Homo sapiens: one gene and its partners. The protein of the gene in region 5 interacts with the protein of the main gene of each other region in a pairwise test. Each region holds a gene or a part of one and is shown on either strand. Other genes may lie near its edges.

Region 1 (4,519 bases), on a different chromosome or scaffold from region 5:
GCCCACTCTCTGCCTGCAATGTCCTGCAGTGCCCAGGAAAAGCTGTTTGTAGTCATACTGCCTCCTGCTAAGATGGGAACAGTAAGCAGACAACAGCTCTTTCTGGCCCTCATCTCCCCATGCATGAGTCTCTTTCCCAGATGCCTGTATCCTAATCCCGTTTCCCCCTGGCTTCACTCTTAGACTTCTTTCAAAACTTTACATATTACAAAATGAACACCATGGAGTCAACCAGACCTTTGTGCTTCCTGATCAAAGAAGACAACAGTGCTTATGTAGTCTTGGTGGCGGGAGAAAAAGAAATCAAATTGGAATCTGATCAAGTCTCTAGTCCTGGTTGTTAATACAGTAGCTACTAGCCACATGTGGCTGACAAGCACTTGTGCTATAATAGGGGTGACATACATACTGAATCTCAAGGACTTAGCATGAAAAAAAGTAAACTAATAATTTTTTATATTGATTACATGTTGAAATAATATTTTTGATATACTGCATTAAGAAAACCATATTATTTAAATTAATCTCATCTATTTTTTACTTTTAAAGACATGGCTACTAGAAAATGTAAAATTGTGTAGCTCACATTATACTTCTATTAGCACTACTCTAAATCTAATGATCAACTTATAGGAAATAAAGAGGACAGAGAAATATATCTTGGGAATACAATTATTATTGTCCAGATTATGGGAAACTCTAAAGGTCAAATGATCCAGTTCCTTCAAAAATAAACTGCAAGGGGGGAAAAAAAGATGGAAACAAATCTATAGGTTGAAAGACACTTAAAGAGACATACTGATGAATCACAGTGAATGAACCTTATTTAAATCCTAATAGAAATGAAGCTTAAAAAGTATGAGACAACCGGGAATTGAGTGACTAAACCAACTAGATATTTGATAATTTATTAAGGAATCAGTTAAAATGTTTTAAGATGTGATATCGTTTTGCATCTTTTAAAACAAATTTTTATCTTTTAGACATACCTACTAAAAATATTTACAAATGAAATGGCCTGACATTGGGGTTGCTTTCAAAATAATCCAAGATGGGAGAAGGGATGGGGTATAGGTGAGAGCTGGCCATTAATCAGTTAACTGCTAAAGCTGCATGATAGGTACATAGAACTTCACTATATTATTTTCTCTACTTTTTTAATGTTTAAAATTTTTCATAGTAAAAACTACAATAAAACCCCCAAAAACCTGCCAAACAAATGTCTTTCAACCATTTACCATGGAGAAGATGGGGAAAGAACATTCTAGAGCACAGTGAAAACTGCTGTGGTGTTGAAAGCAACTTGTTTCCTGTAGCAAAAGGCCTATTTGCTCTATTCTGCTAATGAACTGTTTACAAGTAATAATTACACTCTTCCCAAACTGCTTGCTGTCTTTGGAAAGAGCAAACAACTAATTGATAAACCATCACCAAGAGGAATAAGATAGGTCACTCGAAGAGGTGAGTCTTCAACCCCACAGCACCACAGAGAAACAGTATAAGCACTGGATGCAGCCAAGTGTTAGCCACCCCACAGCTGCTTTAGAGAGGACTCATGACTGCTGCTGATCACAGTGCCTAGCTTTCTTATTTGTCTATTAAGTTTTGTCCCTGTGAATTAAAGCACAATCTTCTAAAAGCAAGCATACCAGGCTTCTTGTAGGAGATCTTTTTGGGGCTGATCCCCATGGGCACGATTTCTTCAAATACACCAACACGCAATTCTGGAAAACAGTGAGCTCCTCCTTTGCTGGTCTAGCCAATGAGAAACAAAACAGAATACAGTCTTGCTGTCCCATCTCCAGGTATAAGACAAGTGCCAATATAAGAATGATGGTCTGTTTTGTAATAACAATAGCTGAAGTCTTAAAAAACCTCTAGTTAGGGCCCAGAATGTTCCAGATAATTCAACATTGATAAATACTTACTGCATACCTGCCATGTGCAGGAATGTTAAGCTGAAAAAGTGTTTCTTTAGGTGTAAGCATTTAATTATAAAACTGCAACACCGCTGAGCAATTCTAACATGTGACTATACCCGGTTTTCATTCTTTTCCTATCATTGCCAGCATGAACGCTAGCAAGGCATTTCCCATCACCTTATCACTTATTATGACAAGGTATAAAGTCACTCAAACAAAGCAGCCCACCTGTGAGAGCAACAACTTTATTCCCCCATGTGGTATGAAGTGTTAATCTTACAATTCCAGATTTACTAAAAACACAGTGATCTGCTGACCAGGCTGGTGGTCTCTCAAGTGAGCTAATATGTCCAAGATTTGGAGTCCCAGATTGCATGAGCTGTAACATTCTTATTTTATAAGAAGGGATACTGAGGTCTAGAGCACTAGCTGGTCCAAAATCATATGGTGACTCAGTGAAAGAATGGGGACGAGCATACTCCTTCTATTGTACTGTCTCGTAACCTAAAGAGAAAAGCACATTTAAAGGGGAAAGGGGGCAGGTGCGGTATCTCACGTCCATATCTCAGCACTATAGGAGGCTGACGTGGGAGGACTGCTTGAACCCAAGAGTTCCATACCAGCCTGGGCAACATAGTGAGACCCCGTCTCTACAAAAAAATTAGCCAGACATGGTGATGCACGCCTATGGTCCTAGCTACCTGGGAGGATCACCTGAGCCCAGGGAGGTTGAGGCTGCAGTGAGCCATGATCACGCCACTGCACTCCAGCCTGGGTGACAGAGCAAGACCCTGTCAAAAAACAAAACAAAAAAACTCCCCAAGCCCCAAAAAATAAAGGGGAAAGGGTATTTATTTGGCACTGCTTATTTCTCTACTTTGAACTCCTCTTCAATAACATGCACAGAGGCAGAAGCAGATGGCTCTAGATCCATTTAATTTTCATTTTCTCTTACCTTAAAATCATCTTTACACAGGTCATCCTTAAACAATGGGAAGGAAAGCATGACTTCCACATAAAGTCTGGTAGCCAATTTGCTTCCACCAACTGTCCCATTGATTCCTTCTGCAGCAATTCGAATCTGAGACACAAGACGGTGAAAAAGAGAACAGATTGTTCTTAGCTTGGTTATCTTTCCAGGGAAGAACAATAGGCTCATGTGTGTCAATGAGTTTAACAGGAAAAGCAGAGACGCTGATGAGGACACCAAAGTGTTACTGGACAAAGATATCTGTGTTTTTCTTTTTTATTTTAAACTTTTAAGTCCAGGGATACAAGTGCAGGTTTGCTCTGCAGGTAAAACTGTGTCATGGGGGTTTATTGTGCAGATTATTTCACCACCCAGGTATTAAGCTTAGTACCCCTTAGTTATGCTCCTGATCCTCTCCCTCCTTCCACCCTCCACCCTCCAAAAGGCCCCAGTGTCTGTTGTTCCCCTCTATGTGTCCACGTTCTCATAATTTAGCTCCCACTTATAAGTGAAAATATGTAGTATTTGGTTTTCTCTTCCTGCGTTAGTTTGCTAAGGATAATGGCTCCCAGCTCCATCCATGTCCCTGCAAAAGACATGATCTTGTTCTTTTTTATAGCTGCATAGTATTCCCACATTTTCTTTATCCAGTTTATCACTGATGGGCATTAGGTTGATTCCATGTCTTTGCTACTGTGAACAGTGCTGCAATGAACATATGCATACATGTGTCTTTATAACAGAACAATTTATATTCTTTTGGGTACATACCCAGTAATGGGATTGCTGGGTCGAATGATAGTTCTGTCTTTAGGTCTTTGAGGAATTACCACATTGTCTTCCACAACGGTTGAGCTAATTTACACTCCCACCTATAGTGTATAAGTATTCCTTTTTCTCTACAACCTCACCAGCATCTGTTATTTTTTGACTTTTTAATAACAGCCATTCTGACAGGTGTGAGATGGATACCTGTTTGTTTTTTAAGACAGAGTCTTGCTCTGTTGCCCAGGCTGGAGTGCAATAGCACAATCTCGGCTCACTGCAGCCTCCACCTCCTGGGTTCAAGCGATTCTCCTACCTCAGCCTCCTGAGTAGCTGGGATTACAGGCATGCGCCACCAAGCCCAGCTAATGTTCGTATTTTTAGTAGAGACGGGGTTTCGCCATGTTGGCCAGGCTGGTCTCCAACTCCTGGCCTCAAGTGATCTACCCGCCTTGGCCTCCCAAAGTGCTGGGATTACAGGCACAAGCCACCGTGCCCAGCTGGATACTTGTATTTTTCTAAAATGGCATAGCCTTCAGTTCAGATGAGGTATTCTGTTTCATGCATGCTGAACAAAAGAATGTGAATAAAACTCCTGGAAAGCCCCATTTGCTATGGAGCTACAATAGTCCAACAGCCAAAGAAGTGAATTCTGAGCTTAATCTAAATCCAGGTAGCTTAACAGAGTCCTCCACAGAGGTCAGCAGATCTAGGCTCAAGATTAAGCTCTGCCACTCACTTGCATGTAGCTGTGAGAAAGTTAATTGACTTCTCTGAATCTTAATTTCTTTATATGAATAAAAAGGGAACTAAAGAGCACCAGAAATGAAAAGAACTGCTGAGGAGATACTACCAAAATCCT
Region 2 (4,519 bases), on a different chromosome or scaffold from region 5:
TTTTCTTTTTTTAGCTTCTAGTTCTCTGCTAAATTTCTCCATCTTATAATTCCTTGAACATATTAAATAGTTTTAATGTCAGATCTCCTGTGGGTCTATTTCTATTGTTTGCTGATTTTCTTGGTTTTTCAGACAACGAATCTCTTTGTACTAGTGCTCGTCACTGTATACAAAAATTATAGGGATAATTTAAAGCACTGGATGATATATTATATTTTTAAAAAAATTTCTTTAGAGACAGGGTCTTGCTTGGTCACCCAGGCTGAAGTGTAGTGATGTGATTATAGCTCACTGTAACCTCAAACGCCTGGGCTTAAACAATCCTCCCACCTCAGCCTCCAGAGTAGCTAGTATGGCAGGCGCACACCACCTTGCCCAGCTAATTTTTAGATTTTTTGCAGATATGGGATCTCTCACTATGTTGCTCAGACTGGTCTCCAACTCCTGGCCTCAATTAATCTTCCCTCCTCAGCCTCCCAAAGAACTTGGATTAAAGGTGTAAGCCACGGCACTCAGCTGCATATTTTCTTCTTCCATAGAAGATTCATCTTTAATTATGGCAAGTAAGCTAGAGTAGAGGTGCCGGCAATCTGAGGTCTTCTTAATCTACGTAGGGAATGAGATTATTTGAAGCTGGCCTTTAGTCCCCATGAGTACTGTCGATTCTGGATTCACCTTTAGTCCTAGGGTATACTGGGTGAGGGGAGGGGAGTTTCAATCCCAAACCTAAATTGCGGATCCTAAATTGCAATTCTTGTAATCTCATCTATCCCACCCATGAGTCCATTAGAAATACCATTCAGAGGCCAGGCGCAGTGGCTCAAGCCTGTAATCCCAGCACTTTGGGAGGCCGAGGCAGACAGATCACCTGAGGTCAGGAGGTCGAGACCAGCCTGACCAACATGGAGAAAGCCCGTTTCTACTAAAAATACAAAAATTAGCCGGGCGTGGTGGCAGGCGCCTATAATCCTAGCTAATCCAGAGACTGAGGCAGGAGAATCGCTTGAACCCGGGAGGCAGAGGTTGCAATGAGCCAAGATTGCGCCATTGCGCTCCAGCCTGGGCAACAACAGTGAATGAAACTCTGTCTCAAAAAAAAAAAGAAAGAAAGAAAGAAAGAAATACCATTCAGCCTCATTGCTGCTGCTGCTTTTGAGATTGACAGATGTCTCTCAGAGAAGCGAGCTCAAATGCTGGGCTCACATCACTGGCTTTCCTATTTTTTAGAACTTGACCCTGCAATTTCTTCATTTCCCTGATAATGCTCTAATCCCCTCACACATAAGCTTTCTATATCTTACATTAAATATTTAATATTTTCTCTAGCTTTTCTGATTATTCTCAGTTGGAAGTTTGGTCCAAACAATCTACCTCTTGCATATAAAATTGTCCCCCCAACTTTTTTTTTTTTTTAAGATGGAGTTTCGCTCTCGTTGCCCAGGCTGGAGTGCAGTGGCGCAATCTCAGCTCACTGCAACCTCCGCCTCCCAGGTTCAAGTGATTCTCCTGTCTCAGCCTCCTGAGTGGCTGGGATTACAGGCGTTTGCCACCATGCCCAGCTACTTTTTTGTATTTTTAGTAGAGATGGGGTTTCACCATGTTAGCCAGGCTGGTCTCAAACTCCTGACCTCAGGTGATCCAGCCGCCTTGGCCTCCCAAAATGCTGGGATTACAGGCGTGAGCCACCGCGCACGGCCGCCCCGCTCCCCCTAACCCTTTTATTTTTTTAATTTGAGACAGAGTTTCGCTCTTTTGCCCAGGCTGGAGTGAAGTGGCACAGTCTTGGCTCACTGCAACCTCCGCCCCTCGGGTTCAAGCGATTCTCCTGCCTCAGCCTCCGGAGTAGCCGGGATTATAGGCGCCCACCACCATGCCTGGCTAATTTTTTTATTTTGAGTAGAGTCAGGGCTTCGCCTGTTAGCCAGGCTGGTCTCGAACTCCTGACCTCAGGTGATCCACCCGCCTCGGCCTCCCAAAGTGCTAGGATTACAGGTGTGAGCCACTGTGCCGACCTATGTCCCTCTTTTTATTCTGAATATTATCTGTGCATTTTCTTAGTACCATGGATGTTTTTCATTTTTATAAGTGTTTTCAAAGACAAAACTTTGTCCCTATTCAGTATTTCTGATGGTTTTTAAAATTTCACTAATTTCTACCTTTTTTTTTTTTTTACTATATTTCCTTCTGCTCTCTTTAGATTGATTTTCCTATTATTTGCAGATAACTTTGCTATTCTCTTTCATGAGATGAATACTTAGCTCATTAATTTTCCTTATCAGTTTATTAAAGACTATAATTTTCCTACTAAGTACAGCTTTACTTGTATCCCACAAGTTTTGAGACATATGATTTCATTATCATTTAGTTCTGAACATTTCTAATTTCCATTATAATTTCCCCTTTGACCCATGAATTTATCAATTCTTTTTGAAAATGAATGAGACTTTTCTAGTTATCTTTTTTTTTTTTTTTCTTTGAGACAGAGTCTCATTCTGTCACCCAGGCTAGAATGCAGTGGCAACCTCAAACTCTGAAGCTCAAGCAGTCCTCCTGCCTCACCTTCCTGGGTAGCTAGGACCACAGGCACATGCCACCACACCAGGCTAATTTTTAAATTTTTGTAGACAGTCTTTCTTCCTTGCCCAGGCTGGTCTTGAACTCCTGCCAGATCCTCCCACCTCAGTTTTCCAAAGTGCTGGGATTACAAGTGTGACCCACTGTGCCAGGTCTCTGGTTATCTTTTTAATTATACTTGTCTCTTGACTTCCAAAAATATAAAATATATAATATATATTATATAAATATATATTTTATGTATGTATTTTTATATATTTTTATATATAAATTTTATATATAAATATAAATATATAAATATATATTTATATTTTATATTATATAATATATTTATATTTTATATTATATATTTTTATATTATATTATATAAATATATTATATTTTTATATTATATTATATAAATATATTTTATATTATATATTATGTATTATATATTTTATATATTACATATATTATATATTTATATAATATATTATATAAATATATGTTTTATATATTTATATATTATATAAATATATATTTTATATTATATATAATATACTTTTACATAATATAATATATATATTTTTCTTGAGACAGGGTCTCATTCTGTCGCCCAGGCTGTCGCCCAGGCTGGAGTGCAGTGGCGCGATTTTGGCTCACTGCAACCTCTGCTTCCGGGGTTCAAGTGATCCTCCCACCTCAGCCTCCTGAGTAGCTAGGACTATAGGCATGAGCCCCACAACTGGCTAATTTTTGTATTTTTTGTAAGGATGGTCTGGAACTCCCAGGCTCAAGTGATCCACCTGCCTCAGCCTCCCAAAGTGTTGGGATCACAGGTATGAACCACCATGCCAGCTAGTTATCTTTTTATTTACTTCTAGTGATCACATTGTGGTGAGAAACTGTATTCGGTATGATACCAATCTTTTGAAACTTGTGGTCTCATATGTGAAAATTTTATAACTGTTCCTTGTGTGTTTGAAAAATATAAGGATGAAGCGGCTGTTACATACAGTTAAGTGTGATATTCAAAGAGGTTAAAAATTCAGGCCAGGCACAGTGGTTCACACTTATAATCCCAGCTCTTTGGGAGGCTGAGGTGGGTGGATCACCTGAGGTCAGGAGTTCAAGACCAGCCTGACTAACATGGTGAAACCTCATCTCTACTAAAAATACAAAATTAGCCGAGCGTGGTGGTGCATGCCTGTAATCCCGGCTACTTGGGAGGCTGAGGCAGGAGAATTGCTTGAACCTGGGAGCTGGAGGTTGCATTCAGGCAAGATCGCGCCATTGCAGTCCAGCCTGGACAACAAGAGTGAAACTCTGTCTCAAAAAAAAAAAAAAAAAAAAAGAAAAGAAAAGAAAATTCAGTGGTAATATAAATTAACATAAATAAAATTTAAAAACATTTTCTAAATAAATTAACCTATATAGATTATAAAAATGCTCACCAGGTGATAACCATTGTAGCTCAAATTGTTCATTAAATCATTCTAGTAATTTTCAATCATTTATTAATTTTTGGAAATTGTAGCCATAATCTTTTATTTGACACAGATGCCCTTGTCTGAACCATGAATTGACATAGGAAACTAGATAAAGCCCTTCTAAGAATGTCCACATTAAATTTATAGTCATTAAATAACTTGTAGTCATGATACGTTAAAAAAAATCACACTTTTTAAAATTTTTTGTAGAGACAAGGTCTCCCTATGTTGCCCCAGCTGGTCTTGAACTCGAGCTCAAGCAATCCTCCACCTTCAGCCTCCCAAAGTGCTAGGATTATAGGCATGAGCTGCCATACCTGGCCTAAAAAAAAGAAATCACTCTTAACATCAACAGAATTGTTCATGGGAGCTGAATCCTCTTTTTGGCTTTTGCTGAAGTAACAGTAAGTATATTTTAAAATGTTTTTAGCCCTTCAAATGCTTGCTGTTAGTTTCATATAGTCAATATTTGTTTA
Region 3 (4,361 bases), on a different chromosome or scaffold from region 5:
TTGCTGTGTTGGCCAGGCTGGTCTCAAACTCCTGACCTCAAGCAATTCTCCCATCTCAGCCTCCCAAAATGCTGGGATTACAGGCATAAGCCACCATGCCTGGCCCCTGTGCATTTTAATATGGGTGACAGCAGGGGTAGGGAAAGCAATCCCCCTCACCCACAAGACATTAGTCTTTTTAGTCCTTTTTTCGGAATTTTCCTGGCTGTTCTCTTTCTTTTTATTTATTTATTTATTTTTGAGACAATCTCACTCTGTCAGCCAGGCTAGAGTGCAGTGGCACAATCTCAGCTTACTGCAACCTCCGCCTCCTGGGCTCAAGAGATCCTCCTGCCTCAGGCTCCCGAGTAGCTGGGACTATAGGCACGTACCACCACACCTGGCTAATTTTTGTATTTTTAGTACAGATGGGCTTTCACCACGTTGGCCAGGCTGGTCTCAAACTCCTGAGCTCAAGTGATCTGCCCCCCTCGCCTCCCAAAGTGCTGGGATTGCAGGCGTGAGCCACCGTGCCCAGCTTTTCTGGCTGTTCTCACGTTTATTCTTCTCATTGAGCTTTAGATTATTTTATCAATTCCTCCAAAAGGTCTTATTGAGCTATAATCCAATTTGACTGAATCTATGGATTGATTTACATAGAAATGATGATTTACATGTCAGTTCTTAGCTTTGAAAGATTTTGTCTGTACTTATTGTCATGGTTTTATAGTTTTTCTATGTAGACACTATACATTTCTTAAGTTTTCTCCCCCTGAACAATTTTGTTTGTAATTGTTATTGTGACAGGGCTCTTGCGTTCCATTTCTTCTTCCAAAGATTGCTGTTTCTCATCTGTCAGTGGTTATTTTGACCAGTTTTCCTCTCAGAATATGGCCTCAAGCCCCTAATTCCTCAGGTCGCTAACCCACCCTGTGTAGCCTTCCTAGTGGACAACAACCACCAGAAGGCAGGGGAAGCCGCCAGAGGCTGTGGCACCCAGGCCAGCACTAACACGGTTCATTCCTTCTTCCCTTGCCCCACCTTCTAGAGGCCACTACTTTTGCTCAGTGTATGGGGCACGGCTGATGGTACCAGCTGGCCAGGGGCTCATCGTGGTCATCTCCTCCCCAGGAAGCCTGCAGTATATGTTCAATGTCCCCTATGGTGTGGGCAAAGCTGCGGTGAGGACCCAGTGGCATAGGAGCTGAGGAGGTAAAAGACAGTGATGTTACCTATAGCTCAGGAGGTACAATCCCCAGTGGTCAGAATGGTAAGGCTGGCTCCTCTCAGCTCCTCCTCTGCCTCATCCATGGACAGTTCCTTTGCTTGTGCTCCTCTTGGTTGGCTAGAGTAGGCATCACACTGGGGAGCGTGGGCAGCTGAGACCTTGGGGCTCCTGGGAAGGACAGGGTGGGTGGAGCATTCACAGTAGAAGCAGAGAGGGCAGGGCAGGAAAGTGACATGGCTAGGTGGCTCTTACCCTGCCTTCCGCCTCTCCACAGTGTGACAAGCTGGCTGCTGACTGTGCCCACGAGCTGCGGCGCCATGGGGTCAGCTGTGTGTCTCTGTGGCCGGGGATTGTGCAGACAGAACTGCTGAAGGAGCATATGGCAAAGGAGGAGGTCCTGCAGGATCCTGTGTTGAAGCAGGTTGGCAAGGGGAGGGCGAAGGAAGCAGAGAACAGGGGAGTCGGCCTCTGCATCCTCAATAACAAGATCAGATACTCCCACTCACCAGGTGCTTACTGTGGCAGGTGCAGGGCTGAGCATGGGACACACATTATTTCCTTTAATCCTGTAAGGGAGATACCAGCTCCATTCTACAGATGGCAAAACTGAAACCCAGAGAGGTTTAGAAACTTGTTGAAGGTCACATATGTCCTAAGTGGAAAGGCTGTCTAGCTCCAAAGACCATGCACTTGACCCCCACACCAGCTAGCTTAGAAGGTCCAAACACTATTTGGCACTACCAGATCCTTCCACTTAGCAAAGACAGCAGATCCTGGTGCCAGGGCACAGGGCTCACCTGGATGTGGGGAGGAGTGGCTCTGGCACCTGCCAATACTTTGGGTCCTACAGGCCCTGCTTGAGGTCTTTGGCCTCTTTGGTCTTTGGTCTTTTTCTCCTGGAACAGAAGTTGAAATGGGGAGGAGACCTGGGCAGTGCTCTTGGAAATTAACCCTTCACTTCTCTGCCCCTGTGTTTCAGTTCAAATCAGCCTTCTCATCTGCGGAAACCACAGAATTGAGTGGCAAATGTGTGGTGGCTTTGGCAACAGGTGAAGTTTGGGGGCAGCTGGTAATAAGAAAGGGCATGGAGGATGTGTAGTGCGGTAGCATCCAGTGCCCAGATCTGGCTCGGGAGTTGGTTGAGGAACATGTCATTCTTTTCTCTGCTTTTTGAGGCCCAAGGGGTCAGCATTCCCAGTTTGAGGTCTGAGAGCCTTAGGAGCAGGCTCCTGGGAAGTGTGGAAAAAGTCCAAGGCCCAAGAGAAAGAGCTCTCCAGGGATCCTGAGCTCCAGGGCTCTCAGCAGTGCCCTGTCCAACTGGGCCCAAACCTTGTCACTCTGCATACTCCCCTGCCTGCCATCTCCACCTGTCTGTGTGCCCGCAGATCCCAATATCCTGAGCCTGAGTGGTAAGGTGCTGCCATCCTGTGACCTTGCTCGACGCTATGGCCTTCGGGATGTGGACGGTGAGGACCCTGGCACAGCAGTCAGCCTTGACTGCTGTTCCCTCTGTTCCCTGCCCACTCCTCCCTCGGTCTCTCCAGCCAAGGTGAGGGTATCTGAGGAGTGGGAAATGAGAATCTAATCCTCCTCCTCCTGTTGTTCCCAGGCCGCCCCGTCCAAGACTATTTGTCTTTGAGCTCTGTTCTCTCACACGTGTCCGGCCTGGGCTGGCTGGCCTCCTACCTGCCCTCCTTCCTCCGTGTGCCCAAGTGGATTATTGCCCTCTACACTAGCAAGTTCTAACCCTCCTGGTCTGACACTACGTCTCTGCTTGTCTTCTCATTTGGACTTGGTGGTTCGTCCTGTCTCAGTGAAACAGCAGCCTTTCTTGTTTACCCATACCCTTGATATGAAGAGAAGCCCTCTGCTGTGTGTCCGTGGTGAGTTCTGGGGTGCGCCTAGGTCCCTTCTTTGTGCCTTGGTTTTCCTTGTCCTTCTTTTTACTTTTTGCCTTAGTATTGAAAAATGCTCTTGGAGCTAATAAAAGTCTCATTTCTCTTTCAATGTGTTTTTGACTGCTGATTCTCTGCTCAGCAACATGTTAACAATTTGGGAGAAAGACTCAAAGATGTATAAATGTGAAGCTTCTCAAGGGGTTCTGCCCCAGGACAAGACCCCTTTCCTCCAGAACTGTTCCTGCTCTGCCCTGCAAGACCTGTTTCCCATGCCCCAGCTGAGGAGCAGAGTCGCTCCACAGCTAGAAGTGGGCACATCCAGTCTCACACTGGTTTTCCACCCCCATTCCACCATCTCTTCAGGGATGCCTGCTACCTTCTAGCTGGGCCTGATCTCTGGCTGAGGCCCAGTCCAGCAAAGGCAGATTCCTTGGTGTTCATGATTTCCTGGAACTTGGGGAGAAGGTACTGCCTGAATCCAAGTGAGGGACAGAGGAATAGCTGTGACACCGACAACTCTCATCCTTCCTCTCGGGATGGTTCTACCTGAATTGCTTTCTGCAGAACTAATTGCATGAGCCCTATAGAGCTGCCTTGCCTATGCAAGAGGCTGTCCTAGCCTGAGGCAAGGCAATGGGGTGTGTTCCTAAGAGGAGCCAAGGGCTATTCTGAGGGAACCTTCCACCGGACAGCCTAGATAACCATCCAAAGTGATGGGATGGCTGCCATAAATCAGAGAAACATAAATCATTTTACTTATTCAAAATCTTCAGAGTGAGAGCTGAGGCTTCCCCAGGCTGCCCACAAGATTGGCAGAAGTCTTCCTGTGGCTTTCTGGGGACCGTCCCCAGTTACTGTTCCAGTGGTAAGTGGAGTGGCTCACCAGCTTCTGAGAGCTTCTGATGCACATCTCTTCTAAGTCCTCATTCAGTGATTTCATGTGGTGTCTTGAATCAGCCATGGCGACAGTACATGTCCCATGAAAGTCCACAAATGCTACCAATCAAAGCTTTCTTTTAGAGAGAGGGCTGGCTTATCAGTACGTGACTGGTATAGAACCTTTGGAACTGTGTGCCTAAATGCCACCATTTGCTGTGGCAGCAGATCACAGTGATCAGATTCCCTCAGCACCTGCTCACCCTCTTCCACTTACCAGCCTAAATTCCTGTTATCTCCTGAGGTTGATGAGGAGCACAGGCAGTTGCCTATGTGGTATAAAAAGAAGATGGGCCTCAGGACCACCTCCAGCCTTCCAC
Region 4 (4,519 bases), on a different chromosome or scaffold from region 5:
AAATAAAATAGGCCAGGCACAGTGGCTCACGCCTATAATCCCAGCAGTTTGGGAGGCTGAGGCAGGCAGATCACAAGGAGTTTGAGACCAGCCTAGCTAATATGGTGAAACCCTGTCTCTACTAAAAATACAAAAATTAGCCAGGTGTGGTGCCTGTAGTCCCAGCTACTAGGGAAGCTGAGGCAGGAGAATTACTTGAACCCGGGAGGCGAAGGTTGCAGTGAGCCACGATCGCACCACTGCACTCCAGCCTGGGCAACAGAGCAAGACTCCATCTCAAAAAATAATAAGAAAAATAAATTTAAAAAAAATAAAAATAAAAAAATAGGCCAGGTGCAGTGGCTCATGCCTGTAATCCTAGCACGCTGGAAGGCCGAGTCGGGCATATCACGAGGTCAGGAGTTCAAGACCAGCCTGGCCAACATGGTGAAACCCCATCTCTACTAAAAATACAAAAATTAGCCAGGCGGGGTACCATGCGCCTGTAGTCCCAGCTACTCGGGAGGCTGAGGCAGAAGAATTGCTTGAACTCAGGAGGCGGAGGTTCATCTCAAAAAAAAAAAAAAAAAAAAAGAACAATGTCTTCTATGCTTCTTTGAAATAACTCCATATGTTTATAAGACAGACATGACTCCTTAAAATGGAAATTGATTTTTTTTCCATGTGAATATATTCATTTTATTTCATTTATTTTTTTTTTTTTGAGACAGAGTCTCACTCTGTCACCCAGGCTGGAATGCAGTGGCACAATCTCGGCTCACTGCAAGCTCTGTCTCCCGGGTTCACGCCAGTCTCCTGCCTCAGCCTCCCAAGTAGCTGGGACCACAGGCGCCCGCCACCACATCCAGCTAATTTTTTTGTATTTTTTAGTAGAGAGAAAGTTTCACCGTGCTAGCCAGGATGCTCTCGATCTCCTGACCTCATGATCTGCCCGCCTCGGCCTCCCAAAGTGGTGGGATTACAGGCGTGAGCCACCGTGCCCGACCAGAATTGACGTATTTCTATTCTTTTGCCTGGGTTTTGTTTCTTTGTATTTTTATTTTTTTGAGACGAAGTCTCGTTTTCTCACCCAGGATGGAGTGCAATGGCATCATCTCGGCTCAATGCAACCTCCGTTTCCCAGGTTCAAGTGGTTCTCCTGCCTCAAGCCTCCCTAGTAGCTTGAACTACAGGCGCACGCCACCCAGCCCAGCTAATTTTTTTGTATTTTTAGTAGAATCGGGGTTTCACCATATTGGCCAGGCTGTTCTCGAACTCCTGACCTCAGGTGAGGAGTTCATTTCCACGGCCCCCCTCGACCTCCCAAAGTGCTGGGATTACATGCCTGAGCCACTGCACCAGGCTTTTGTCTGTTTTTTTTTTTTTTTTTTTTTTAATGAGACAAGGTCTTGCTCCACTACCCAGGATAAAATGCAGTGGTGCATTCATAGATCCCTGCAGCCTCACACTCCTGGGCTCAAACAATCCTCCTGCCTCTGCCTCCCGAGTAGCTGGGACTACAGGTCCATGCTACCACATCCAGCTATTTTTATTTTTCTGTAGAAATGGGGTCTTGCCATCTTGCCCAGGCTGGTCTCCAACTCCGGGGCTCAAGCAATCCTCCCACCTTGGCCTCCCAAACTGCTGGGATTACAGGCATGAGGCACTGTGTTCCACCCATATTTCGATTTTTAAGGATACTAGCCAACTGCAGGGTTTGTGATAGAAGTTATCCCATTAGGCCATTTATATGCCCCATGCCAGAGGAGTCCCTGGTTTAGGGGCATTTTCATCACGGTTCTATTTTCTTTTTTTCTTTTCTTTTTTTTTTTTTAAATGGAGTCTCGCTCTGTCCCCCAGCTTGGAGTGCAATGGTGCCCTCTCAGTTCACTGCAACCTCCGCCTACAGGTTCAAGCGATTCTCCTGCCTCATCTTCCCGAGTAGTTGGGATTACAGGCGCCCATCACCATGCCCTGCTAATTTTTGTATTTTTAGTAGAGACGGGATTTCACCATGTTGGCCAGGCTGGTCTGGAACTCCTGACCTTAGGTGATCCGCCCGCATTGGCCTCCTAAAGTAATGGGATTACAGGCATGAGCCACTGCACCCGGCCATGGTTCTATTTTCAATCAGGAAACTAAAATTTGTATTTTTCCCAAATATTGACGGATTGTAAACTGGCACAACCACTTGCATTATCTAGTGAAGCTGAAAATATCCATTCCACGAACCTGAGCAATTTTACCCATCAGTATATATGAAGGAACTTTTTTTTAAACAAGGGTACTTAATACAAGAATGTTCACAGCAGCATTGTTAAGAGCCAAAAGCTGGAAGCAACCCAGATATCTATCAATAGTGGAATAGATAAATACCTTATGGTGTATTCATACAACAGAATACTACATAAAAAATGGAAATGAACAGCTGCACACAATGTGAACAAATTTCAGAAACATTATGCTAAGACAACATAATACAGCATGACTCCATTTATACAAAACTCATAAGGAAACAAATCTAAACTAGGTTAAGGGCTACGGAGATGGTAAATGTAAAAAGAAGAAGAATGTTATCACAGAATAACAGCTGTCTGTACGGCTTGAGAAGCTGTGATCAGGAAGGGACCCACGAAGGGTTCAGAGATACTGGCATCGTTTTATTTCTTGAAAAAGTAGTACTTTCGCCAGCATTTACTTTATAATTTGTCATTAAATTGTACAGAGATCGCCTAAATTTACATGGATGGATAAATATTTCACAAATTTTAAAACAAAGAAAAACATGGGCGGGCGCAGTGGCTCACGCCTGTAATCTCAGCACTTTGGGAGGCCAAGGTAGGCAGACCACGAGGTCAGGAGTTCAAGACCAGCCTGACCAACATAGTGAAACTCCGTCTCTACTACAAATACAAAAAATTAGCCAGACATCAGCCGGGCACAGTGGCTCACGCCTGTAATCCCAGCACTGTGGGAGGCCGAGGCGGGCGGATCACGAGGTCAGGAGATCAAGACCATGCTGGCTAACACGGTGAAACCCCGTCTCTACTAAAACTACAAAAAATTAGCCGGGCATGGTGGCAGGCACCTGCAGTCCCAGCTACTCGGGAGGCTGAGGCAGGAGAATGGCGTGAACCCAGAAGGTGGAGCTTGCAGTGAGCCGAGATCGTGCCACTGCACTCCAGCCTGGGCAGCAGAGCGAGACTACGTCTCAAAAAAAAAAAAAAAAAAAATTAGCCCAGCGTGGTGGCGGGCACCTGTAATTCCAGCTACTCCAGAGGCTGAGGCAGGAGAATTGCTTGAACCCGGAAGGTGGAGGTTGCAGTGAGCCGAAATCGTGCTACTGCACTCCAGCCTGGGCGACAAGAGTGAAACTCCATCTCAAAAAAAAAAAAAAAAGAGAAAAGAGAAAAAGAGAAAAATATTAGCCTTCTGACACAGCCACCATTTCTACCTACAGTTTTGCCCTGGCCTGAAGAGTGAGACCAAAGGAGCACTCCTTCCCTCTTTCAGCAAAGGAAGAAATTAATCTACCATTTCTTCATGCAGCCACATCAATTTAATAACAGAAATCACAATCTAATGTAATAACTAGGAAAAAATACAAAGGAAGCATTTAAGTGAAGTCTGAAGAGGACTTAAAACATCTGGAACAAAATGCAGTACAACAGAATAACAGAAAAGAACAGGTAATAGGCCAGGCGCGGTGGCTCACGCCTGTAATCCCAGCACTTTGGGAGGCCAAGGTGGGAGGATCCCGAGGTCAGGAGATTGAGACCATCCTGGCTAACAGAGTAAAACCCCGTTTCTACTAAAAAATACAAAAAATGAGACAGGCATGGTGGCGGGAGCCTGCAGTCCCAGCTACTCCGGAGGCTGAGGCAGGAGAATGGCGTGAACCCAGGAGGCAGAGGTTGCAGTGAGCCAAGATTGCACCACAGCACTCCAGCCCGGGCAACAGAGCGAGACTCCGTCTCAAAAAATAATAATAAAAATAAAAAGAAAAGAACAGGTATTCATGTAACACCTAATTCTAAGGCTAATTCAGAAATCAGAGACCCTTACAGATCAAGAGTGGCCATTTAAAAAGCAGACAAGAAAGAAATATGGCACATGAAGTATAAACCACAACTAATTAAACTAAAAGAAAGCATATCCAAAAAAAAAAGCATATCCAAAGTAAGGAAAGACATCCCTGATTCTGAAGCTGCCTTAAAGAAAGGCAGCCACATCCAGAGCCCCTGACTTTGGTTACTTTCCTAGAGCAATTCAAATTTACAAGAAAATTAAACCACTATTTGATCTTTAGTTTGAAATGGCAACATAAGCTGGAGAGAGGATGTGGAACTGCAGAGGTTCTCGAAGAGTTATAGGAAAAATTCATCAGAGAGGACCCGAAGGAAGACATCTAATAAGTAAATCTTAGTTGACAAACTTGGAGAAAAAGTATTTATAAACACCAATTTAAAAGGAAGATCTCAAGCTTAATAGTTAAAAATAAAGATAACCCAGAACAAGCAAGCCTAAAAAATTAATCAAA
Region 5 (4,519 bases):
CTCCCAGGGCGCCTAGAAAGAGAGATGGCTCCACCACGGTGCAGCCTGCTGGACACACGACCGCCCTCCTCCCCGCCCCCCCCGCCGAGTAAAACCCCTGTGTCGTGAATTCCTGCACTATCCCATGTTTCTCCCTGCAAAGATTTTGCAAAGGAAGGAAGGGATAGACAGAAGAAATTGGGGGAACAGGGGAAGGAGAAGGAGGGAGGAAGAAAGAGAAATTCAAGCCACCAGACCGCGATGGAATTTTACTAAAAGCAGTGGACCCTATTTGCCCACATCTCTGTTATGGGCATTGTTAACACTCATTCCAGGAAGGGAGAAAGGCAAAACATTGTTACAAAAGTAAAATCGCCTCAACGGCACCCCAGCCAGCCCTCTCCAAATTCAGCCGTCTATGCAGCCATGTATTTGGTGCTGCCACAGCAAACTGCTGCTTCAGTCTGTCTCCAACCGTGGGTTTCTCAAAGTGGGTAATATTACTCCTTTTGTCCTCTCTTCAGCTAAACTGGTTCCAAGTCCCTATGCGTCCCAAAGCTCCTCAGCTCTATTCCTGAAAAATTTCCTTAATTGAAAGAAAAGGCACAAGGTCCCTTTATCCGATTCCACCTACCCGCCCCCCATCCACAACTCTTCAATAGGAAGAGGACACAAGTTTCCCAGCCAGAGAAATCCACTAAATACCCACCATTCCCGTCCAAAACAAGAAGCTCAAAGCAGATTTCATAACAAGGTAATAGAAAGAACAGTTAATTCCTGTTAACTAATTTTCCATCCCTGCAGGACTGCAAGCCCCATCCTCCTTCCCCCGGCTCCTCCTCTCCTCCCAGCACTGGGGTCTCTGGCTTCAGTCTACTAATGTGGATGCTAAGTAATCACTAATTGACTGTAACGCAGAGTGAAAGGGCATTAAAATCCGAGGCAACTGGGAAGTTAGGACAATGCAAATATTTAGGACTTGAGGCTGTCTACACCTGGCCAGCGGGGTCATCGGGTCACTGTTCAAAATACAAGATGCCCCTGTGGCCCAAGTTTTTGTCTACTCAATGGAAAGAAATTGCTTTGCTGGTTTCCCGGCTCTCCCACCCCCACCCCACCTCTAGGAGCACTCGATTTTTAAAAATGGACCCTGGTATTTGCAGCCCTGTAGGCGGTCTCCGAGACGTCTTGAGGGCTCGCGTTACCCTAATCCTCACAGCATTTAGTCTACATTCTTGCCTTAACCCCCCTTTGTTTTTGGCGTGTCAAGAGGCAGGTGCAGATACACCTAGCTTCGGTCGTCCTTCCTTCAACTTCCTGCTGCTCCCGGTTTTATCCCTTCACGGCTTTTCTAGTAATTCATTTCCTTTTTCATTAGTTTCACCCTTCGGATCTCTTTAAAAGACACGTTTGCCCCACTGTCTAAAAATAATAAGGTCCCATCCTGCACAAAGCAAACCCCCTGAGACACAGGGATGCGCTCGGTCCCAGTCCAGCCGCGGCCTCTCGTGCGGTGAGTGCACCCGGTGGCCCGCGCCACCTCGCCTTCCCCGGCGGCGCACAGTGCCGCCAACTCCCTTCCCTGGTCGATTTTAATTGACATCCTCAGCCGCCTAGGTAGAGACTCTGTCTCTCTGGAGCCTGACACGTTTCCAGCGCTCGTCAAGGTCCACTAAGCTGCGGAACCGAGTGGGGAGCCGAGGCTCGAACACCCGCAGAACGCGCGGGCCGGGCACACCCGCCGGCGGCCTCCCCGCTCCGAAGAGGAGGAGCCCCTTCGAAAATGGGAGCATCGCTTTCCCAGGGTTAAACAGTCACATTAGACTCGAGCCGCCAGGGTTGGGGTTTAATTTTGTCATTCCAAATGCTTGGAACGAAATGGGTCTGGAGAGGAAGAGAGGTTTTCACCCGGCCTCCTCCTAATGGGCGCGCCGTCCGCACTCGCGCCTGCCGCGCCTATCCTTGCTGGAAAAGTCCCTGCCACCACTCTAAAGGGCAGCAAAGGGGTCCCAGGCCTGGCTAATTCCAGCTCAGTCGGACCTCTGGGCTACCTGAGATAATAAGCTCCGAAAACGGGCGCGAACCTCTGGGCGGATGGACTGCAAGGGCCAAGGCGCAGGAACCTCTATTGCAGCGCACCGGGGAGAGAGAGGCGGTCCCTCCCTTGTCCCCTTCTGGGCTACGACCTTTACCCACCGCTGCGGGACGCAGTAAGCGCAAAGCCGGCTACCCGCGAAGGGCCGGCCGCCCTGTCCACATCTACCTCCACCGGCGAGTCCCCCAAAACCCAGAGCACGCCCGGGATTCCCGGGCGAGTGCCCAGGATCGTGAGCCGCCCATGGGTGCGCAGCAAACGCTCATTTAAAGAATTCATCGTCTGTTCCCCGGGCCACCCAGGCCGGCATCTGCCCGCGGGGCGGAGGAGCCCTGCCCCGGTCGTAGCGAGGTCATGTGGGTCGCGCTCCCAGACCCTAGGACGCCACTCCTGCTCAGCCCTGCGTAGCCCCGCCTAGCTCTGGTTTTCCACGAGCCCGGACCTCGGCCAAGAGAGGAAATAAACTTGAGTTAGGTCCTGCTTCTTCTCAGTCCCGACTTTACGACTTCCCGGGACACTGCGGACTGCTCAATGCAGACCTTTGCCCCTCACCTGCTGCACCTGCGTGCTCCGTGTCCGGCTTTAACAGTTAATTCCGCATGCGGAGCGCACTGGGACAGCGGCTTTCCAAGCTTCCCTCCGTGCTAACGGCCCTCTCAGATAACAAGGCCCTGGAAAGGAGGAGGCCGGAGCCCTCTCGCCCCTTGGGAGTCCTCAGCCATCCGCTGTCCCAAGCGGGGCGCTGCCGCGCTTACCCGGGTTTCTCCAAACTCCCTTCTTTGTGGTACACAGCTCTGGCCAGGGGCTGGAACGGGATCCTAGCAGTTAGGACATCGGAACCCCCAACCCATCAGGCCCGAATCGGCCGGCGGGGACAGCTGACCTCATCTGTAAAAATTGTCTCCTGCCTGAGAATATATTCTCGCGACGCAGGGAGGGAGGTCTATGGTGCCTACAGCTGCTATATCGGAATGTTCGGAATATGATAGAATCTCAATCTATTATATATATATATATATATATATATATATATATATATATATATATATATATAATTTGTGTGTGTTGTGTGTGTCTGTTTCTCGCACTAGGAGACAAGGCAGGAATGGAAAGAAGAGCGAACAGCACCAGCGTTTGAGTGAACTCCTGTCTTGGACAGTGAATCCATCTCACCCCCTTAAGAAATGTCCTGCAAGAAGGACAGTCAACAACCCCGGGGACTCGGATCTGCAACTCGACCTGCGCTGGGACATTACCCCACGCACCCCGGAGGAGCCCCAGGAGAGGAAGTCCCAGGGAAAACCTTTACCCCGACCCTACCAAACACAAAATAAAATACCTTTTTCCTACAGCTTCGGGGTTCGCCAGAGCTTGCCGGAAGCATTTTAGGAGACAAGGAGGGGGACAGAGACCCCCAGGCCTGCATTCCAATTACCACCCCCAGCGGAGACCCCGCGGGGCTCCTCCTTCTCCCGTGCGGGCTGCCCTCTCTCCCGCCAGCGATCCGGGCGGCGGGCTTCCGTCGTCCTTTCCCTCGGTGCCTGGGGAGACTACATGGCAGATGGGTCAAAACCGAGGCGGATAAAACGCCCCACCTTCCTATATGCCTCGCTCTTTTCCGCGTCTCCTCAGAGGGCATGGCCGGCCAGCAGGGCCCCGACGCGTGGAGGGACTGCTGAGGTCCGCGGGGAGAGTTTTGGAGGCGGCTCGGAAGGCTCTCGCCGTACCCGTACCCAACACGGCCCCGGGTCAGGCGCTGTGAGGATTCGGATCTCGACGTCCCTACAGCCCGGAGGGAGGTGGCGGGGACGAGCTGTCGGTGCGGGCCGTAGGGACAGCTGTAGGGCTGTCGGAGCGACGAGGCCCGCACCGGGGGCCGCGCGACCAAGGCGCGGTAAAAAACCAGGAGGGCTACGGCGCGAACTGCTAAGTCCGCACGGGAGCCTGCGGGGGCGGGAGGCCGGGACAGAGTGGCGAGGAAGAGGCCAAGTCTGGAGCAAGACCAGAGATGAGAGAGAAATTATTACATCATTTGGAAACGTTTTCCTAAAGGGTATGCCCCTCACCCATCCCCAAATAAGCAAAGGAATAGTCCAGCTGCCGCCGAAATAAGCTGGATTTAAATCACTTCTTCTAAAATGCCCCTAGAGGGGAGGGCACTAGAGGCACCGAGCTTGGGGACACCTAGACCTGCGTCCCCAAGTGCTCCATTCGTGGTGACTCCATGTGATGAAGAGGCAAACATGTCTGTGTTGAGAGGGAAACCCTTCTAGTTGGCGACTGGAGGGACCCCTGTGGGAGAGCGTTTCTTTTGTCTCCCCTCCTCTAGGGTTTAAGAGCCTACTGTCCCGGAAGGCCCAAGGGTGTGCCCCACAACCCCTCGAGCTTCCCCCCTTCTTAGGCCACTGGGCCCAGTCCCAAGAAAACTAATAGTTGTGTATATGT
Region 6 (3,362 bases), on a different chromosome or scaffold from region 5:
GTCCAGTGGGAGACCCATAGTACTGCCACTTCCTCCATCCCTCACCCTGCTTGAATTCACTCTGGTACTTCCACCCAACATACCACATATTGTTGTCTGTTGCCTGTCTGCCTCCCACCTCTTTGCCCCTACAGACTATAGGCCACAGGACAGCAGAGGTTTCTATCTCAGTCCCTGCTGCAGCCCTACAGTGCAGAACGGGGCCTGGCACGTAAGGAGGCGCTCAATAGCTCATGGAATCAATCTAGGTGCTGGCACCACTCCAGCCTACCCTAACCTTCCGTACCCTCCAACCAGCATGCCAATTCCTCTGCCCAGGGCCCACCCCCACTGCTACTTCCTCATTCAGTACCACCTCCTCAGGGGGCCTGCCCAGACCACCCAACCTACAGCAGCCCCCCAACTGGTCCCTTTCTAGTCCTGTATTCTCACTATTTATATGAGACCTGGTGGGTGGGACTAGATACTCACAGGCTGGGCAGGGGGCATCTGTCCTGGCATAAGCTGCTGCGGGGGCATGGCCCCTGGTGGGATCTGGCCAGGTGCAAGGCCTGGCGGGGGGATCATACCAGGGGGCGGCATGTAGGGCGGCTGGCCCGGCATGTGGTGCATAATGCGGGGCGCCTGAGTCATCGGCGGCATGCCCTGTGGAGAGAGGGAGGAGAGTGCGTGGTTACAGCAGCCCCAGGAGGCAGAGAAGAGGCCATGAAAGGAAACCTAGCGGGTGAGAGATGTAAGGAAAAACACCCAGAAAGAGGCGCAAAAGGCACCCAAAGAGGGCCCGACAGAGCAAAACAAACCCAGGGTCTAGTGGGACATTAAATCAGAAAGAGTTAAATGCTATTTGTGAGGCTGAGGTAGGAGGATCACTTGAGCACAGGAGGTCAAGACTGCATGCAGTGAGCTCTGATTGTGCCACAGCACTCCAGCCTGGGAGGCAGAGCAAGACCCTGTCTCTTAAACAAAATCAAAGGAGAGGAAGAGATGGAAAGGGACAGTCAGGGCAGGTGCAGAAAGAAATGTGTGGTAGGCCGGGCACGATGGCTCACGCCTATAATCCTAACACTTTGGGAGGCCGAGGCAGGCGGATCGCCTGAGGTTAGGAGTTTGAGACCAGCCTGGGCAACATGGTGAAACCCCGCCCCTACCAAAAATACAAATATTAGCCAGGCGTGGTGGTGGGCACCTGTAATCCCGGCTACTAGAGTGGCTGAGGCAGGAGAATCACTTGAACCCGGCAACAGAAGGTTGGAGTGAGCCGAGATCACACCACTGCACTCCAGCCTGGGCAACAGAGTAAGTCTCTGTCTCAAAAAACAAAAACAAAAACAAAGGAGGGCAGTGATGGAAAGGGACACTCAGGGCAGGTGCAGAACAAAACGCGTGGCAGCAAGGGGAAGAGGGAAGACAACAGATGGCAGGCAGCACACTCAGGGGCTGGAATCACAATCTGAAGTCCAAAGTGGACAGAAAACTAGGTGCAGGGAAGAGGAGAGAGGTTAACAGGAGCCCACAGTAATCCAGACACCATCACCAACTTGGAGAAAGTGTGAGTGGCACCGAATAGAGCATGACCCAGTCAGAGCCATGAGACTCATGAAAGCCAGAGAGACACGGAGGCTCAGAGACCTAAGGAGTGGGCCTGGTTCATCCATCTTTTCTTTTGTACTCGGTGCTTTTTGTATCCTGTTTGGAAAACAGGATGTTTCCACTTTTCATGCCCTCACCAAGGTCATTTAGACATTTTCCTGTTTTCTTCTAGAAACTTTATTGTGTGAGGGCCGGGTGCAGTGGCTCACGCTTGTAATCCCAGCACTTCGGGAGGGTGAGGAGGGCGGATCACTTGAGGTCAGGAGTTCGAGACCAGCCTGGCCAACATGGTGAAACCCCATCTCTACTAAAAATACAAAAATTAGCTGGGTGTGGTGGCACATGCCTGTAGTCCCAGATCCTCGGGAGGCAGGGGCAGGAGACTCGCTTGAACCCAGGAAGCGCAGGTTGCAGAGAGCTGAGATCACACCACTGCACTCCAGCCTGGACTACAGAGCGAGGCTCTGTCTCAAAAAAAAAAAAAAAAAAAAAAAAAAGAAAAAGAAAAAGAAAAGAAAAGAGAAAAGAAACTATATTTTGTGAGTTGTCACATTTGGATCTGCAATTCACTTCAAGTTATATTTTGCATATAGTATGAGGTAGGGCTAATTTTTTCCCCTTGCAGATACCCAACTGCCCCGCATCATGAACTAGGGGAAAAAAAGTCCTTTCCTCAGTGAAGTGCAGTGGTACCTCGATCACACATCAAGTAATTATACAAGTGTAGCTGTACCTAGACTCTTCATCCTGTCCCCTTGGTCTGTCTTCCTACCCTTCTGCCAACTGTATATCATCCTGGTTGGTTGCTGCAGGTTTTTTTTTTTTTTTTGCACATGGACGTGGTGGCATGTGCCTGTGATCCAGCTACTTGGGAGGCTGAGGCAGAAGATCACTTGAACTTGAGAGGCAGAGGTTGCAGTGAGCCGAGATTGCACGACTGCATTCCAGCCTGGGGAGACAGATTGACTGAGACTCCCTCCCGAAAAAAAACAAAAGAAAACAAAACAAAACAAAAAAGAGACAAGGTCTCACTCTGTTACCCAGGCTGGAGTGCAGTGACAAAACCACTGTTCACTGCAGCCTTGACCTCCAGTTCTCAAGCGATCCTCCCAGCTCAGCCTCCTGAGCAGCTGGGACTACAGGAATGAGTCACCACGCCCAGTTTTCTATTTTATTTTTTGTAGAGATGAGGTCTTGCTATTTTATAGAGGCTGGTCTTGAACTCCTGACCTAAAGCAATCCTCCTATCTTGGCCTCCCAAAGTGCTGGGATTACAGGCATGAGCCATTGGGCCTGGCCTGGTTGCTGGAGCTTCCCCTGGTCATGCAGGTCCTGGTGCTTTATTCTCCTCGCCTGGCTTGGCCTTGTCTTTCCACACATTTAGAAAGAGCCAATCAGTGTCCAGTGTTTACCGAAATTCCTGGTGGGATTTTGATTGCAATCACGTTGAATCTTCAATTAATTTGGATGGAACTGACCTCTTGACAATACTGAGTCTTCCTATCCATTGCTGAGTCTCTGATTTCTCCCAGCTACATTCTGTGATTTCAGTGTAGTCGTTCTGCAAACCTTTTGTTGGATTTACCCCTCAGTGCTACTTTTCAATGTGAAGTCTACTGGTCTGTTACTGGCATATAAAAATAAAACTGGGGGCCAGCCATGGTGGCTCATGCATGTAATCCTAGCACTTTGGGAGGCTGAGACAGTGAGTTTGAGACTAGCCTGGGTGATATGGCTAAGCCCCGTCTCTACAAAAAATGCAAAAGTTAGCT
Region 7 (4,519 bases), on a different chromosome or scaffold from region 5:
TGAACACATGTATTTCCTTTTCTTTTATACTTTACATTAAAAATGACTAATACTGTCTTTGCTTCAAGGAGCTCATGCTCTTTTGCAGGCTTTGAACAAGGGATTGCAGATTTAAGGAATGTAGCAGATGGAAGGGTAGGATTATTTGGGCGCAGACGACAAAGTAACTTTACTGGGCCAGGTTGTCGGTGCATTCAGTGAAGGGACAACTACTTTGAGACCTGAAAGATGAGGAGGAAGTAACTAAGCAAAACGGGGATCTGAGGGGAGAGGAGTGGAAGCAGCATGTCTGGGAAGGACACTGAGAGAGGTAGTAACAAGTGGCTACCCACAAGATGGACAAGTCGGTGCGGCAGGACGGGATTTTTATCCTAAGGCTAATCAAAAGCCATTGAATAGTTGTATGCAGAAGGGTGTCATAATACTTACATCTTATAAAGACCACTTTTTAAAAGGGCATAGTGGTCCTAATGGGAGGTGATGTGGGCAACAGAGTAGACTCGTTAGACTAATGAGGACACAGAATCCAGCATCACACTGTGCCAGATGCACATCCAGGTTCAGTTCTAGAAAACTTACAATAAGCTATTCTGTGAAAACACAGTCAGTGGGTTCTGTATCTGCAGATATGCAAGGTTGACTGTACTGGGTCATTTTATATCAGAGACTTGAATACCCACAGACTTTGGTATCTGTGGGGATCCTGTAACCAATTCTTCTTGGATACTGAGGGATGACTGTACAAAACCACAGTGAAATGAAAAACTCTGGGAGTTAAGTATTATCTTAATACAGAAAGGCAACAGAGCAGTAGAAAGTGCAAGTCTTTGGGGTCATGTCCTAATTCTGTTATTTTTCCAGCTCTATGCCTGTGGGCAAGTTAAATGTTCTGAGCCTCAGTCTTCTCATCTACAAAGTAGGGATAATATATCTATTTTCAGAGTTGCAATGATTGAGCCAAATAAAGTATGCAAACCGCCTGGTACGTTGCCAGACATGTAAGAATTAAAAAATAAAAACTCTTCATTAACACTGCTTCACAGAGACACTGTTTTATCACACCTTTCCCATCTGTAATTATATGTTTTGGGAAACAAAGTAACCTAGGCTGTATTTATCTAGGTTATAACATGGTCCAACAGTACTGCCTGAATTGTGAGTTACATTATATATTTTATTTCACCATGGTAGTTTACAGGTTAGACTTTTTATTTATTTATTTTTTGAGACAGAGTCTCACTCTGTCCTGTCGCCCAGGCTGGAGTGCAGTGGTGTGATCCTGGCTCACTGCAAGCTCCGCCTCCCAGGTTCATGCCATTCTCCTGCCTCAGCCTCCGGAGTAGCTGGGACTACAGGCGTCTGCCACCACGCCCGGCTAATTTTTTGTATTTTTAGTAGAGACAGGGTTTCACCGGGTTAGCCAGGATGGCCTCGATCTCCTGACCTCGTGATCTACCTGCCTCAGCCTCCCAAAGTGCTGGGATTACAGGCGTTGAGCCAAGGTGCCCAGCCTTTATTTTTTAAATCCATTAAAAATATCGATCTTCAAAACCCAATCTTTTTTTTTGGAGACAGAGTCTCACTCTGTCTCCCAGGCTGGAGTGCAACGGCGCGATCTCAGCTCACTGCAACCTCCGCCTCCCGGGTTCAAGTGATTCTCCTGCCTCAGCCTCCCAAGTAGCTGGGATTACAGGTGCCTGCCACCGTGCCTGTCTAATTTTTGTATTTTTAGTAGAGACAGGGTTTCGCCATGTTGGCCAGGTTGGTCTCAAACTCCTGACCTCAGGTGATCCACCTGCCTCAGCCTCCTAAAGTGCTAGGATTACTGACATGAGCCACCATGCCCGGCCAAAACCCCCAAGTTTTAGAAATAATAATACATTCTCACCTCTTCAAGGGAAGATTCCAAATTCATTCCAAAAGCAACTCCCATTAGTCCAAAGAGCGAAAGAGAGAAGGTTCCCATGGTCAGCTGTAGATTCAACCTCATCATCACGTTTCGGTGGCTGGAGAGGAGAACACCTATTCAGATTAGAAGGGCCCACTAACTATATACAGCACATTCATCAAATCTATACAGACCACATGGATGAAACCTACACAACAAAAAAAATAATAATAATGTAGTATAGATGATAATGATGGCGTAATTCCTCACAAAATATTTCCTTAAAAACTTTCTTATAATTATTTTATTAAAAAAACTTAGTTTTATATAATGCTTTCTTACCTGTCCAGATTAATGAAAATAATACTTTGTGAATCATCAATCAGCACCCTAAGCTCACGAGCTGCATTGGAGAGATCGTCAGCCAATCGGTAGTAGTTTTCCAACAGCAACTCCATCTCTTCTGCATGGTCAATCCCAGCACTGCTCTTTTCACTTCAATTAAAAGAGAAAATAATTAACATACTCCCAACATGTGTATCATATACTTAGTGACAAAAACTTCCTAAATTAGTATATAGCATTCAGCTACCAGTGGAAAAGCTAGCCTTTGTCTTGTCTTGTCTTTTTTTTTTTTTGAGATGGAGTTTCACTCTGCTCCCAGGCTGGAGTGTAGTGGCGCGATCTCGGCTCACTGCAACCTCTGCCTCCCAGGTTCAAGCTGTTCTCCTGCTTCAGCCTCCCCAGTAGCTGGGACTACAGGTGCCCGCCACCACGCCCAGCTAATTTTTGTATTTTTAGTAGAGATGGGGTTTCACCATATTGGACAGGCTGGTCTCGAACTCCTGACCTTGTGATCTGCCTGCCTCGGCTTCCCAAAGTGCTGGGATTACAGGCATGAGCCACAGCGCCTGGCTGCCTTTGTCTTTTCTATTGTTGTGGCCAATCTGTGAGTACCTATGTCAACTGATCCAAAACACTTTACAGATGAGTTGAGGACAGAGGTTCCATCCTTATGTAGACCAGTTGGTGTCACTGTATTACATGGCCCCAATCCAAGAGATTTTTATGCAGATACATGCTGCCAGTTACAGGAAAATCCAGATATGTGAATGCAGATGAATTAGTGCAAAGCCAATACCACTATCAGGTAAAACAAAATCCACAACTAAAAATGTCAAGACCATTTCCTTTTGAGGTGTGTACATAATGTGATTTCATATAAAGAAAATGTTTTTGAATGATATCAGTAATAACTTTGCTCCCCTACCCTACCAAGAAGGGTAAGGGGGAATGAAGTACTCTGAAGAGGTACCTGTATCATAAAGCATATTAGAGACAGATTGACAGATTGGCCTAAGCAAAGCAAACAGTTTCTGCTACCATACCTATCGGCTATCTACCAAATGTTATATAGCCCCCTTTATCTTATTATTTCCTTATCAGGATATAAATAACCAATTTTTCAAAGTGCTGTAAGAAAATCTGTACAGACTGTGGAAACTAAACTCATTACAAAGGTGTATTAATTTCTGATACTGCTCTAGAAAGACAATAACAAAATATTTGGGTATTTAAAAGTAAACATTTAGCTGGAGTGTGCACAAGAAGCATAAACAATTTCTAAATTCATAAAAGATAAAAGGTTTATAAGATTAACATTTTCATTAGACTGAACTTACATAATCCATGTTAATGTGTTACTCGTGTATTTACCCCATCTTTTCCCTCCCCCATGTAAATTTCTCTCCCACTCTGCTTCCTAGGTAAGTTATTTTGGTAGATGTATATGCCAATCTGGTGGTCAGTCCCTTGAATATAAAGGTAACTGTGTGTTTATATTCACCACATGTCAGCAGTGTTGGGTATGCAGTATGCATACTCATAGAATTACATTGAATTAGATACGATACTGCACAGGAAAAAAGGGAAACTGGGGATGAAAAATCTCTATATTCTGTAGTCCAGAAAAATGTTACATTCTGTATGAAAAATCACCTTGAAGTGGAAAAGGCAAAAGATTTACTCTAAGGAAATAAATAACAAAGTATAATTATATACTTACAAGACTTGTGGGTCACTCCATTTTGATACACAGAGCTCTTCTAGCAACTCTTCCTCATCCAAGATCTCCAAAATTGACTCTTTGAAAATTTTAATATCTGTTTCTAACTCTGATAGACTATAAGAAATAGATACACAAAAATGATCAATAGAATAAACTTATAAGAACATTTCATAATAGTGTTTTTAGAGTATCTTATCAAATATATTATCTTATACATTCATGCTAAACAATGACTTATTTAAAAAAAAAAAAAAAGTTGAGTATTTACCAGGCAAATTAAGAATCAATTTGGCCAGGCATGGTGTCACGCCTGTAATCCTAGCACTTTAGGAGGCCAAGGCAGGAGGATTGCTTGAGCTCAGGAGTTTGAGACCCTCCTGGACAACAGTGAGATCTTGTCTCTACAAAAAAATTTAGAAAATTAGCTGGGCATGGTGGCATGTGCCTGCAGTCCCAGCTACTTGGGTGGTGGAGGTGGGAGGATTGCTGAAGGTTAAGGCTGCAGTGAGCTGAGACTGCACCACTGCACTCCAGCCTGGGCAACGGAGTGAAACCCCGTCTCA

Evidence for each region.
Region 1: the proteins of LHX4 (region 5) and TSTD2 interact in binary tests that used the Homo sapiens proteins (3 or more experiments, as listed by UniProt).
Region 2: the proteins of LHX4 (region 5) and DCAF10 interact in binary tests that used the Homo sapiens proteins (3 or more experiments, as listed by UniProt).
Region 3: the proteins of LHX4 (region 5) and DHRS1 interact in binary tests that used the Homo sapiens proteins (3 or more experiments, as listed by UniProt).
Region 4: the proteins of LHX4 (region 5) and QRICH1 interact in binary tests that used the Homo sapiens proteins (3 or more experiments, as listed by UniProt).
Region 6: the proteins of LHX4 (region 5) and SNRPA interact in binary tests that used the Homo sapiens proteins (3 or more experiments, as listed by UniProt).
Region 7: the proteins of LHX4 (region 5) and MRS2 interact in binary tests that used the Homo sapiens proteins (3 or more experiments, as listed by UniProt).

Annotation. Positions count from the first base shown.
Region 1 is NC_000009.12:97,608,697-97,613,215, forward strand, and holds part of TSTD2 (thiosulfate sulfurtransferase/rhodanese-like domain-containing protein 2), read right to left. Parts: intron 3,004-4,519; coding exon 2,878-3,003; intron 1,756-2,877; coding exon 1,650-1,755; intron 1-1,649.
Region 2 is NC_000009.12:37,807,047-37,811,565, reverse strand, and holds part of DCAF10 (DDB1- and CUL4-associated factor 10), read right to left. Parts: intron 1-4,519. UniProt on the Homo sapiens protein: May function as a substrate receptor for CUL4-DDB1 E3 ubiquitin-protein ligase complex.
Region 3 is NC_000014.9:24,289,451-24,293,811, reverse strand, and holds the end of DHRS1 (dehydrogenase/reductase SDR family member 1), read left to right. Parts: intron 1-1,027; coding exon 1,028-1,160; intron 1,161-1,211; exon of another isoform or gene 1,212-1,481; coding exon 1,482-1,628; exon of another isoform or gene 1,629-1,773; intron 1,774-2,186; coding exon 2,187-2,256; intron 2,257-2,592; coding exon 2,593-2,673; intron 2,674-2,816; coding exon 2,817-2,953; 3' UTR 2,954-3,214; downstream 3,215-4,361. UniProt on the Homo sapiens protein: NADPH-dependent oxidoreductase which catalyzes the reduction of steroids (estrone, androstene-3,17-dione and cortisone) as well as prostaglandin E1, isatin and xenobiotics in vitro. May have a role in steroid and/or xenobiotic metabolism.
Region 4 is NC_000003.12:49,087,267-49,091,785, forward strand, and holds part of QRICH1 (transcriptional regulator QRICH1), read right to left. Parts: intron 1-4,519. UniProt on the Homo sapiens protein: Transcriptional regulator that acts as a mediator of the integrated stress response (ISR) through transcriptional control of protein homeostasis under conditions of ER stress.
Region 5 is NC_000001.11:180,232,779-180,237,297, reverse strand, and holds part of LHX4 (LIM/homeobox protein Lhx4), read right to left. Parts: intron 1-4,519. UniProt on the Homo sapiens protein: May play a critical role in the development of respiratory control mechanisms and in the normal growth and maturation of the lung. Binds preferentially to methylated DNA.
Region 6 is NC_000019.10:40,760,184-40,763,545, reverse strand, and holds part of SNRPA (U1 small nuclear ribonucleoprotein A), read right to left. Parts: intron 646-3,362; coding exon 472-645; intron 1-471. UniProt on the Homo sapiens protein: Component of the spliceosomal U1 snRNP, which is essential for recognition of the pre-mRNA 5' splice-site and the subsequent assembly of the spliceosome. U1 snRNP is the first snRNP to interact with pre-mRNA.
Region 7 is NC_000006.12:24,415,948-24,420,466, reverse strand, and holds part of MRS2 (magnesium transporter MRS2 homolog, mitochondrial isoform b precursor), read right to left. Parts: intron 4,071-4,519; coding exon 3,954-4,070; intron 2,384-3,953; coding exon 2,231-2,383; intron 2,007-2,230; coding exon 1,889-2,006; intron 1-1,888. UniProt on the Homo sapiens protein: Magnesium transporter that mediates the influx of magnesium into the mitochondrial matrix and regulates magnesium metabolism. Also permeable to calcium, sodium and potassium ions.